3 linked regions of the Homo sapiens genome follow. The protein of the gene in region 1 interacts with the protein of each later gene in a pairwise test. Each region holds a gene or a part of one and is shown on either strand. Other genes may lie near its edges. The genes, in order: TMTC1, GSN and alpha-crystallin A2 chain.

Region 1 (3,652 bases):
AGCAGGCCATCAAACTTAGCCCCAGTCATCACGTGGCCATGGTGAACTTGGGAAGACTCTACAGGTCACTGGGAGAGAACAGCATGGCTGAAGAATGGTACAAGCGGTAAAGTTCCCTTTCTTTTCTTTATAAGTTGCCCAGGAACCTCAGCAATCACTCATCAGCTTCTTAGTTAATCAGAATAGGTGTGCTCTCAGAATACTAGCAAATTTTGCCAATTCAGGTGATACAAATTTTTATCTCCAAAGAAAGCAACCACAATATAAATGGGATCATAATTCATGACTTTGGCTTGCTGGTTAGACTATAGTGCTGAACCAAGGTTGAAATTTAATTCCCACTTTAGTCAGTTTGTTGTTTTCTGAAGCCATGGATTGCAACCCCAATCATAAACAGCAATTTAAAAAATGAGGATACATGAAAAACTATGCACACATGAGAACAAATTCATCATAATTAATGAGAAAGACCCTTGGGGCTCAGTTTCCATATTGATAGGTCAATAAGACATTCTTACGTTCCAACTATGGCATCATGATCATTTTGTAAAAACCTTGTTCTTGGCCAGGTGCGGTGGCTCATGCCTGTAATCCCAGCACTTTGGGAGGCCAAGATGGTCGAATCACCTGAGGTCAGATGTTCAAGACCAACTTGGCCAACATGGTGAAACCTCGTCTCTACTAAAAGTACAAAAATTAGCCGGGCATGATGGCGGGCACCTGTAATCCCTGCTACTCAGGAGGCTGAGGCAGGAGAATCACTTGAACCTGGGAGGTGGAGGTTGCATGAGCCAAGATTGTGCCACTGCACTCCAGCCTGGGTGACAGAGTGAGACTCTGTCTCAAAAAAAAAGAAAAAGCCAAAAACCTTGTTATTGATATAAAAACAAAGACCGTATTGGAGCAGAGGTTCAAACCATGGACCGTCTTCCCTAAATCTAAGCCTAGACATTTGGAAATGTACCTATTAGAAGAGAAATGTCATTTAGATTTTCTCCAAACTCAGCGCCCTGCAGGTGGCACACAAAGCTGAGATATTGTCACCTTTGGGAGCACTGTATTACAACACTGGCCGATACGAAGAGGCTTTGCAGATTTACCAGGAAGCTGCAGCACTTCAGCCTTCTCAGAGGGAGCTCCGCTTGGCACTGGTGAGTAGGATGAAAGAAAATGAAGCTGGCAACCTAAGCACAGGCAGCCATAGAGAGAGCTGTAGTCCTCACGCCTCAAAACTGGAGCTGGAATGCCGTAATATATCCACTGTATGAATATTCATACAGCTAATGTTAGAGCCATTCTCTAAAGACATGGACACCAAAAATACTGCATTTTTGTTTTGAAATAACTTCAAACTTATGAAAGTGTTGCAAGAATAGTAAAAAATTTACATATACCCTTTCATCCAGCTCCAATGATTTGTAACATTTTGATTCATTTATCACTCCATTGTGTATGCATATGTAGATGTATATGTACCTACATGTATATGTGTGCATATTTAGATATGTATGTTTGTATATACCTATTATTAGTGTGTGTTATTTTTTTCCTGAACCATGTGGGAATTAGTTGTATATATCATTCCCCTTTATCTCTAAATACCTTTGCAAATAGTTTCTAAGAAGGACATTCTCTAACATAACCACAGTGTATTTATTAGACTCAGGAAAATTAACATTCATACCAACAAAATTTTTATTTCAGTGTTTGGAACTTCACTCATCCTTTTCCTTAGATGTGCAATAAATCAAATTTGTTATCTTGCTGTAAACACACTGTTCTGATGAAATCAGAGGAAATTCTTTCTCTTCTGACTTATTTGGTCAACCTTTTTTAAAAGCCACAAGCCATTTCACTGGATATATTTAGTGTTTCTGCCACTCACTCACAAATGCATGCACAAAACTAAATAAAGAAACAAACAGCAAAAAGTCAAAACCTGAAAACTGGTGATTCAGCCTTCTCTATGAGTCACTAAATTGATGCTGAGCATGTTTGTCAGGAGTGCGTTCTGAATGCTTCTATTCAGGGATGCTTTATTTGATAAGGTAATGAAGTCTCTGCTAAGCCAAGGTCCATGTGGTTTTGTAGGCTCAGGTTTTGGCCGTGATGGGTCAGACAAAAGAAGCTGAAAAGATGACCAATCACATTGTGTCAGAGGAGACCGGATGCCTTGAATGCTATCGCCTCTTGTCAGCCATCTATAGCAAGCAGGAGAACCACGACAAGGTAAAGAAGGACATTGTTTAGAGTTCTTTGGATTCATAGGTTAAACATGGGGTGCACCTAAGTGATTCTCCAGTTTGCGTGTTTATAAGCCTGGGAAATCTTAAATCTTATCCGTCAGCATATCCTATCTCTTGGAAACTTTTCACAGATATCCCCTTAACACCTAAGATGTCCCCTTGTAATAATATTTTTCTTGGCTTATCTTTGGTGTAAAGCTTTTATGTGGTATTGTCTTAGTTTGTTTTCAGCTAAGTCTATAAAGATCAAGACCAACATTTATATGCTTTATTATTTTGTATTTTCCTTCTTATATATTGTTTTATGTAATCCTCATAACAACCATGCTTTACAGGGTTGTTATGAGGATTACATAAAACAATATAGAAGAGGAATATATAGGAAGATTACATGAAACAATATATAAGAAGGAAACACAGGGTGACCCAATGTCACAACTGTTATTATCTCCATTTTAAAAGTCACATAATCAGTAAATTTATAAACTGACTCAATGAAGTAATTGTTGAAGGCCCACTATGTCCTGGCCACTGTAGTAGGCATCAGAAATAAAGTGGTATGAAAAAAAAAAAAAAAAGTCACTGCCCTTGTCTTCATGGAGCTAACCCATAGAGAAGGAGATTAAACAGGTACTCACAAAACAAATGTAGAGTGATAGCTGTGCCCAGGAATATCATGAAGCGCTACCTCTCCCAAAGAGCATATAATCAGGGGACCCGATGAGTCTGGGAGGCCAGGTCTCCCTGTAAAGTGATGTGGAGGTGAGGGCTGGATGAAGAATAAGAGTTGTTAGGCAGAGGAAGAAGCAAGGAGGATTCTGGGCAGGGAAACGCACATGCAAAGCCCTGTGGCAGCAGTGAGGGGCCTCTCTGAGGAATGGGAGTGAGGGAGCAGGAGCACCGTAGGAACGCAAGCACAGGCTGCTGGGAGGAGACTCCTTGGGGCCAGGCCAAGGGTTTTGTTCCTTACCATGGGAGAAGCTTTGGGTTTTTGTGGAGAGGAGGAACATGATCAGATATTTGCTTTGAAGGGATCTTTGGCTGCAGTGGGGTCAGTGGGTGCTGGGGGCAGAATGGTCACTAGGACCTGAGAGGGGCTGGTGGGGTGGTCCAGATGAACACATGGTCAGGGAAAACGTCTGATGCCAAATCTTGTTTTCTTTCAACTGTATCACACCACCTCCCTGTAAAGTAATCAAGGATATTTTATTGCCACTCATCGATACGTGGGAAAACTGGAGTGTAAGAAAGTTATTTTGTCAGGGCCACTAATTCCCAGTGAGAAAATCAAAGATAATGAAGAATGTATATATATTTGAGACAAGGTCTTCCTCTGTTGCCCAGGCTGGAGTGCAGTGGCATGATCTCACCTCACTACAAGGTCCACCTCCCAGGGCTCAAGAGAT
Region 2 (3,652 bases), on another chromosome or scaffold:
CTCCACCATGCCCCCACTGATGTTTGAATCACCCTGGTTTGTCTTCATCAATAATTTTGTTAGGTCGGTTTAGCAAGAATATCCCTTATTCCTGAGCTTCCTCTTAGTAATTTTCCATCCGCTGACCCCTACCCTGCTCTGCAGCTATCAATTCCCACTCGCCCATGCTGTATTAGGAGTTGAGCCCAAACTCTCTCCCTCACTGTAGGACCCTGTTGCAGTGGTCCCTATGCCCAAGGCAATGTTCCTGAATAAAGACTTCCTTACCGTGTTTTCACAAGTGTCACTGAATTTTTTTTTTAACAAGAAAAAGCTATAAAATGTGTCATTTTGACTCAGGAACTCCATTTCTAGGGCTCACTTCTAGGAAATAATAAAAGAAGAACACACAAAAAAAGTATGCACTAGGTTGTTCATTGCAGTATTGTTTATAAACTGCCTAAATGTTTCATAATTGAGGATTGTTAAGGGAACATGGTACAGGCACACCAAAGATAGAATAATAGTGAGTGATGAAAACTCGGGTGGGCATTTATTTCTACCATAACAAAAAAAAAGTAGGAGGCAAGACCCTTGTTTAAGGACTAAAGAGCCACTGACAATAACAGGGTACAGCCTAGTGCCCAGATCTTTTAATGTCTATATTCGATATCTGACTTATCTGTCGATTTCATCTGCTATGAGTTTCTAGAATCTGAACAGCTCTTGAAATACTTTGCTGCTTAATTATGGAGCAAAGTAGGGTCCTGTAGGAGAGAGAGACTCAGTAGAAAGCCATGGAAGGGGGAGAAATACAGCTAGCATTTGATCAACCTTTTCACCAGAAGTTTTTATACCCAAGATTATAAACATTATTCTCTCTGTATTTATGGATGCAAACTACAGCCCTGGGGAGCCCCAGTCTTGGTTCTTTGGGGGTGATCTTGGGCAAATCCTGTTTCTCTCAGCCTTTTTGTTAATAAATAAAAAGCATTATTTCATTTTTTAATCCCTAGGACTATTGGAATAAAAGATTTAAATTAGAATAAACATTTATCTACTTAGGTATAGTATGCTTTTAAAACTTTTAAAAATTAAATTTAAAAAGAATCCTTAATAACATGAGAAAAATACTTACGATATAATGTTGAGAAAAAACAGAAAGTCAGAACAGACAATTATAAATATAGGATAATTGTGTGGGGGTAAAAAAAAATGCACTGAAAATATCAGGAAGGAAGGGCACCCAGGTGTTGGCAGTGATTTTCTCTGGTTAGTTATGAACACTTCTTTTTTATATATATACTTTTTTATTTCCTAAATTTTCTATCACAAGTGTAATAGAAATAATAAGGGTGGGGGGAAAAGGTCCTTGGAGGTGGGGAGAAAAAAGTACATATGCCACCCACATCATCAACACACACCCAACAAGTTAACTAGTATTTACTTAGTACCCACCAAAACCCAGCTCAGCCACAGTCTCTGTAGCAGGGAAATTAAGGGCCAAGCCCCACCCTGAAGGCTCACATATGTAGAATATATATACTTTGCTTGGCAAATAAGCTTGGCTCTGATGATATTCTTATTGAGGTTGGAAAATAACAGGACTGTTTGCTTAGCCAGCTCAGCAGAATAAACGAATCCACTCCCACTGGTGCGACCCCTTCACTGGAGTTCCCTGCGAGGCTCCATGGCTTAAAGCCTTTCTGGATCACTCTTGGGAAGAGTCAATTTCAGGGATACTTTATAGCCCAGGAAGAAAACTGTTCTCATCCCTTAACCCAGGCACTGAATGCAAGAGGTGAAGAGGCTCCCCATGAGGCAGAGCAAGCAAGGGAGGAGGGAGGAGCAGGAGGGCCTGGGAAGGAACCTGACAGGCTGTGTGTGGGCCCTGGGGACCCCTGGGCAAAGGAGCTCACGTCTCCAGGCCTGAGTTTCCTCACTGGTAAAATGGGTCACATAATGACAACCCCAGGACTATTGTGAGACTCAAAGAAGAGAACGTAAGTCCTTTCATTTTTCTAAACTGAGCCTCAGTTTCCTCATCTGTAAAATGGAGTCACTATCTCTCCCCTCGTAGATCTGTTAAAAGATTAAAGCAGATAGTGAAAGCAAAAGGTGAACATACATAGTAAGTGTGTTACATATGGTGGCCCTTATTATTGTTGCTTGTAGAGCAGGGAATGGGATACATCAACAAATCCTAGGCCTCAACTCCCTTATCTGCAAAATGGGGCAATCAATTCAGTCCGAAAAGATTAAATTCAAGAACAGTAGCTGAATCACCAGTTGCACCACTGCGGGCTCACTTTGTGTCTCAGACATGCCGGACCCAAGTACATGTGGGGAGCACAAAGCCCTCCAACTCAGAGGCCATCAGAGCTGGGAAGGCTGACATTATGCTGTCCACCCTACAGTGCAGAATGGACACTGGGGCCCAGAGAAAGGCATGCATTAGCCCAAGTCACCCAGTACTTTGTCACTGGCAAAGCCAGGACCCAAGCCCAGGCCTTCAGCTGCCTACCCTTGCCCACAACACCCACTGCTTTTCTCTGCCCTATTCTTAAATTGCTGATGTGGTCCCAGGCAGGGCAGACGAGAGCAGGCATATGGCAGGGGAGGGACAGAGGGAAGGGGAAGCTGGCCAGCAGCAGGAACTGAGCCTGCCTGTGGTCTCCAACTTCACAAACCACATCAGGCTGAAATATGACACACGCTCACTCCGTTGAAAGCGAGGAGATATTTTTACTTAACATCCCCCGGCTGCCTAAACACTGGTCTCTTTTTTTCCCTTCCTCCCCAAAATGCATAACCCCTGGGACGTGCTTTTCTCTGCTTCTGCTGGCATTTTCTCAGGGAATAACCAAGGAGCAGGAGAGTGTCCAGTTTTCCTGGCTTCGCCAGATAGATTTCCAGAGCATAAGCTTGATTGATGAAAAGGGGGGACCAGTCCTGGCTGGGCTCTCACCTCACCACATGACCTTGCTGGGCAAGTCCTGTGTCCTTTTGGAGCCTGGATTCCCTGAAATGGAGGGGAGATTGACCTGCACTGAGGGTCCTGCGGATGGCACAGGAAAGCATGAGTTTACAAACAGCCCCGGGAGGCCCCTCCAGGCCTCTCTGCTGCAGGGCTGAGCTCTCCAAGCTCTGCACACCGACACCCACCCCTCATAAAAGCATAACAAACTCCCTTACCAGTTCTCCTAATACCAGGACTAGAAAGAATTTTCAAGAGAATGTTTAGTGCTGTCATTAATAGCTATGGCTCTGTCGTCAGACCTCTGGAATCCTTGCACCATCACCCAATAGCCACACAACCCGGGGCATGTTATTCAGCCTCGGACTCAGTTTCCTCATCTGTAAAAGAAGATACTAGTATCTACCTCAGAGGAATGGTTGCAAGGAATCAATAAAGTAATTAATGTTCCAGTGCTTGGTATATTAAAAGATAGCTTTTTTTGTCTTTTCTTTTTTTGTTTTGAGACAGTATTGTTCTGTCATCCAGGCTGGAGTGCAGTGGCGTGATTTCAGCTTACTGTAACCTCCGTCTCCAGGGTTTAAGCAATTCTCATACCTCAGCCTCCCAAGTAGCTAGGATTACAGGAGCATCCCAGCACGTATTTTCAGTAGAGACAGGGTTTCACCATGTTGACCAGGCTGGTCTCAAACTCCT
Region 3 (3,652 bases), on another chromosome or scaffold:
CTAAACATTCTTCTTCTTCTTCTTTTTTTTTTTTTTTTTTTTTTTTTGAGACAGAGTCTCGCTCTGTCGCCCAGGCTGGAGTGCAGTGGCATGATCTCGGCTCACTGCAACCTCTGCCTCCTCAGTTCAGGCAGTTCTCTGCCTCAGCCTTCTAAGTAGCTGGGATTAGAGGCGCCTGCCACCATGCCCTGCTAATTTTTTGTATTTTTAGTAGAGTTGGGGTTTCACCATCTTGGCCAAGCTGATCTTGAACTCCTGACCTCGTGATCCCCCTGCCTCGGCCTTCCAAAGTGCTGGGATTACAGGCGTGAGTCACCGCGCTTGGCCATTTTCTTCTTTAGTGACCAAAATTCCTCCCCTTAGGCATTTTTGGTCATTCAGAAGGAAAATCTAAATTATGGACACTTGTGCTTCTAGAGCAGACATGCATCTGCAGAGACGGCAGCTGGATTCGTGGACAATGCTTATGGTGCCACCTTCTGTCAGTATCTAGAAACATGGTCTCACTTAACCCGTGAAGACCCCAGACTATAATAGCTAAAATGGGGCGCCTTTAAAGTAACTAGTTTATGCACTCAATAGGAAAAATCTGCATCTAAAATTTAAAAACTGAGAGAGCTATTTTTCAATGATACTTAGAAGCTTCTAAAAGAAGTTCTGATGAAGTCATTTCTTTGCAAGAAGAAAACAGAAGATTATCTGAAACTATTTCTTTTGTTTGTTTGTTTTGAGACAGAGTCTTGCTCTGTTACCCAGGCTGGAGTGCATTGGCGTGATCTTGGCTCACTGCAACCTCTGCCTCCCAGGTTCAAACGATTCTTCTGAGCTGGGATTACAGGCATCCCCCACCTTGCCTCGCAATTTTTTTTTTTTTTTTTTTGAGACAGAGTTTCATTCTTGTTGCCCAGGCTAGAGTGCAGTGGCACGATCTCAGCTTGTTGCAACCTCCCCCTCCCGGGTTCAAGCGATTCTTCTGCCTCAGCCTCCCAGTAGCTGGGATTACAGACACCCACCACCATGCCTGGCTAATGTTTTGTGTTTTTAGTAGAGACAGGGTTTCACCATGTAGGCCAGGCTGGTCTCGAACTTCTGATCTCAGGTGATCCACCAGCCTTGGCCTCCCAAAGTGCTGGGATTACAGGTGTGAGCCACCACGCCCAGCCATCCACAGTTCTTTTTAAAATTTAGAAGTAGTTTCAGGCTGGGTGAGGTGGCTCACACCTGTAATCCCAGCACTTTGGGAGGCCAAGGTGGGTGGATCACGAGGTCAGGAGTTCAAGACCAGCCTGGCCAAGATGGTGAAACCTCATCTCTATTAAAAATACAAAAATTAGCCGGGCATGGTGGCGGGCGCCTGTAATCCCAGCTACTTGGGAGGCTGAGGCAGAGAATCACATGAAACCCAGGAAGCGGAGGTTGCAGTGAGCCAAGATGGCGCCACTGTACTCCAGCCTGGGTGACAGAGTGAGACTCTGTCTCAAAACAAAAACAAAAACAAACAAACAAAAAGACCATGGAGGCTTTCTCCTGTTTGTTTCCAGCTGCTGCTTCTCCTTCTGCCTCTGGGATGATCTAAACTCATCTCTTTCTGCCTGTTCCCTCAGCTCCCATACATCTCTTAAGCAGTGTTTTTGGAATTCCACAATGCACACATTTCCTTCTCTCAAAAAGGGGAAAGTATATTTAAATTTGGAACAGACTGGGTGCGGTGGCTCACACCTGTAATCCCAGCACTTTGGGAGGCCAAATTGGGCAGATCACCTGAGGTCAGGAGTTCGAGACCAGCCTGGCCAACAGGGTGAAAACCCGTCTCTACTAAAAATAAAAAAAGATTAGCGGGGAGTGGCTGCGGGCTCCTGTAATCCCAGCTACTTGGGAGACTGAGGCAGGAGAATCACTTGAATCCGGGAGGCAGAGGTCGCAGTGAGCCGAGACGGCGCTATCGCACTCCAGCCTGGGCGACAAGAAGGAAACTGCGTCTCAAAAAAACCCAAAACAACAACAACAACAAAAATAAAAAATAAAAAATAAAAGAAATAGGCCAGAAAAGAAATGTTAGCTCAAGCCTGTAATCCCAACACTTTGGGAGGCCAAGGCTGGTGGATCACATGAGGTCAGGAGTTCAAGACCAGTCTGGCCAACATGGTGAAACCCCATCTCTACTAAAAACACATGTGGTGGCATGTACCTGTATTCCCAGCTACTCGGGAGGCTGAGGCAGGAGAATCGCTTGAACCCAGTAGGTGGAGGTTGCAGTAAGCTGAGATGGTGCCACTGCACTCCAGCCTGGGCGACAGAGCGAGATGCTGCCAAAAAGAAAAAGAAAAAGAGAAAGGAAGGGAGGGAAGGAGGGAGGGAAATTAAAAAAATAAAATGCTAACATCCAGGGAATTAGTTCAGCTGAGATCAGATCTGAAACAAGTCAAAACCCTTTAAATGCTCAAACTGCCTGCTCTGGAGCCCCTGCAGGGTTTGTCAGTGCTCCAGCCTGTGGGCCAGAGGCTATGAGTCTCTACAAACATGAGGCTATGTTTGCAGCCTGGGTTCAATTTCCAGTCCTGTTTTTTTTTTTTTTTTTTGAGACGGAGTCTTGCTGTGTTGCCCATGCTGGAGTGCAGTGGCATGATCTCGGCTCAGTGCAGCCTCCGCCTTCCAGGTTCCAGCAGTTCTCCTGCCTCAGCCTCCCGAGTAGCTGGGATTATAGGTGCCCACCACCACGCCCAGCTAATTTTTTGTATTTTTAGTACAGACAGGGTTTCACCATGTTGGCCAGGCTGGTCTTGAACTCCTGACCTCAGGTGATCTGCCTGCCTCGGCCTCCCAAAGTGCTGGGATTACAGGTGTGAGCCACCGCGCCTGGCCTTCTTTTTTTTTTTTTTTTTTTTTTGAGATGGAGTTTCGCTCTCGTCACCCAGGCTGGAGTGCAATGGCATGGTCTAAGCTCACTGCAACCTCCACCTCTCAGGTTCAGTCAATTCTTCTGCCTCAGCCTCCCAAGTAGGTGGGATTACAGGTGCTCACCACCACGCCTGGCTAATTTTTGTGTTTTTAGTAGAGATGGGGTTTCACCATGTTGGCCAGGCTGGTCTCGAACTCCTGACGTCAAGTGATCCACCCACCTCAGCTTCCCAAAGTGCTGGGATTACAGGTGTGAGCAGCAAGATTTCTTTTTCTGAGCTGTCTTTAGAGTGGTTCTGACGCTTAGGAAGACTGCTTTGCATTTCTTTGGAGATGCTTGGTTCAGCCTTGGTTAAGTCATGACCTTCGTTATGCCATTACCTTGGTTAAATCTTTGTTTTTGAGATGGAGTCTCGCTGTGTCACCCAAGCTGGAGTGCAGTGGTGCGATCTTGGCTCACTGCAACCTCTGTCTCCTGGGTTGAAGCAATTCTCCTGCCTTAGCCTCCCGAGTAGCTGGGATGACAGGTGCATGCCACCACACCTGGCTAATTTACCTTGGTTAAGTCTCACTGGTTTTGTGAGTAACTTGAAAATGTCCATTTCGTTTTTTTTTTTGAGATGGAGTTTCGCTCTCATTGCCCAGGCTGGAGTGTAAGGGATGGCCTGATCTCGGCTCACTGCAACTTCGGCCTGCCAGGTTCAAGCGGTCCTCCTGCCTCAGCCTCCCAAGTAGCTGGGATTACATGCATGCA

What was found.
Region 2: the proteins of TMTC1 (region 1) and GSN interact in binary tests that used the Homo sapiens proteins (3 or more experiments, as listed by UniProt).
Region 3: the proteins of TMTC1 (region 1) and alpha-crystallin A2 chain interact in binary tests that used the Homo sapiens proteins (3 or more experiments, as listed by UniProt).

What each region holds. Positions count from the first base shown.
Region 1 is NC_000012.12:29,514,926-29,518,577, reverse strand, and holds part of TMTC1 (protein O-mannosyl-transferase TMTC1), read left to right. Parts: coding exon 1-106; intron 107-1,006; coding exon 1,007-1,151; intron 1,152-2,091; coding exon 2,092-2,229; intron 2,230-3,652. UniProt on the Homo sapiens protein: Transfers mannosyl residues to the hydroxyl group of serine or threonine residues.
Region 2 is NC_000009.12:121,271,159-121,274,810, reverse strand, and holds part of GSN (gelsolin), read right to left. Parts: intron 3,002-3,652; exon of another isoform or gene 2,948-3,001; intron 1-2,947. UniProt on the Homo sapiens protein: Calcium-regulated, actin-modulating protein that binds to the plus (or barbed) ends of actin monomers or filaments, preventing monomer exchange (end-blocking or capping).
Region 3 is NC_000021.9:6,502,173-6,505,824, forward strand, and holds part of alpha-crystallin A2 chain, read left to right. Parts: intron 1-3,652. UniProt on the Homo sapiens protein: Contributes to the transparency and refractive index of the lens. In its oxidized form (absence of intramolecular disulfide bond), acts as a chaperone, preventing aggregation of various proteins under a wide range of stress conditions.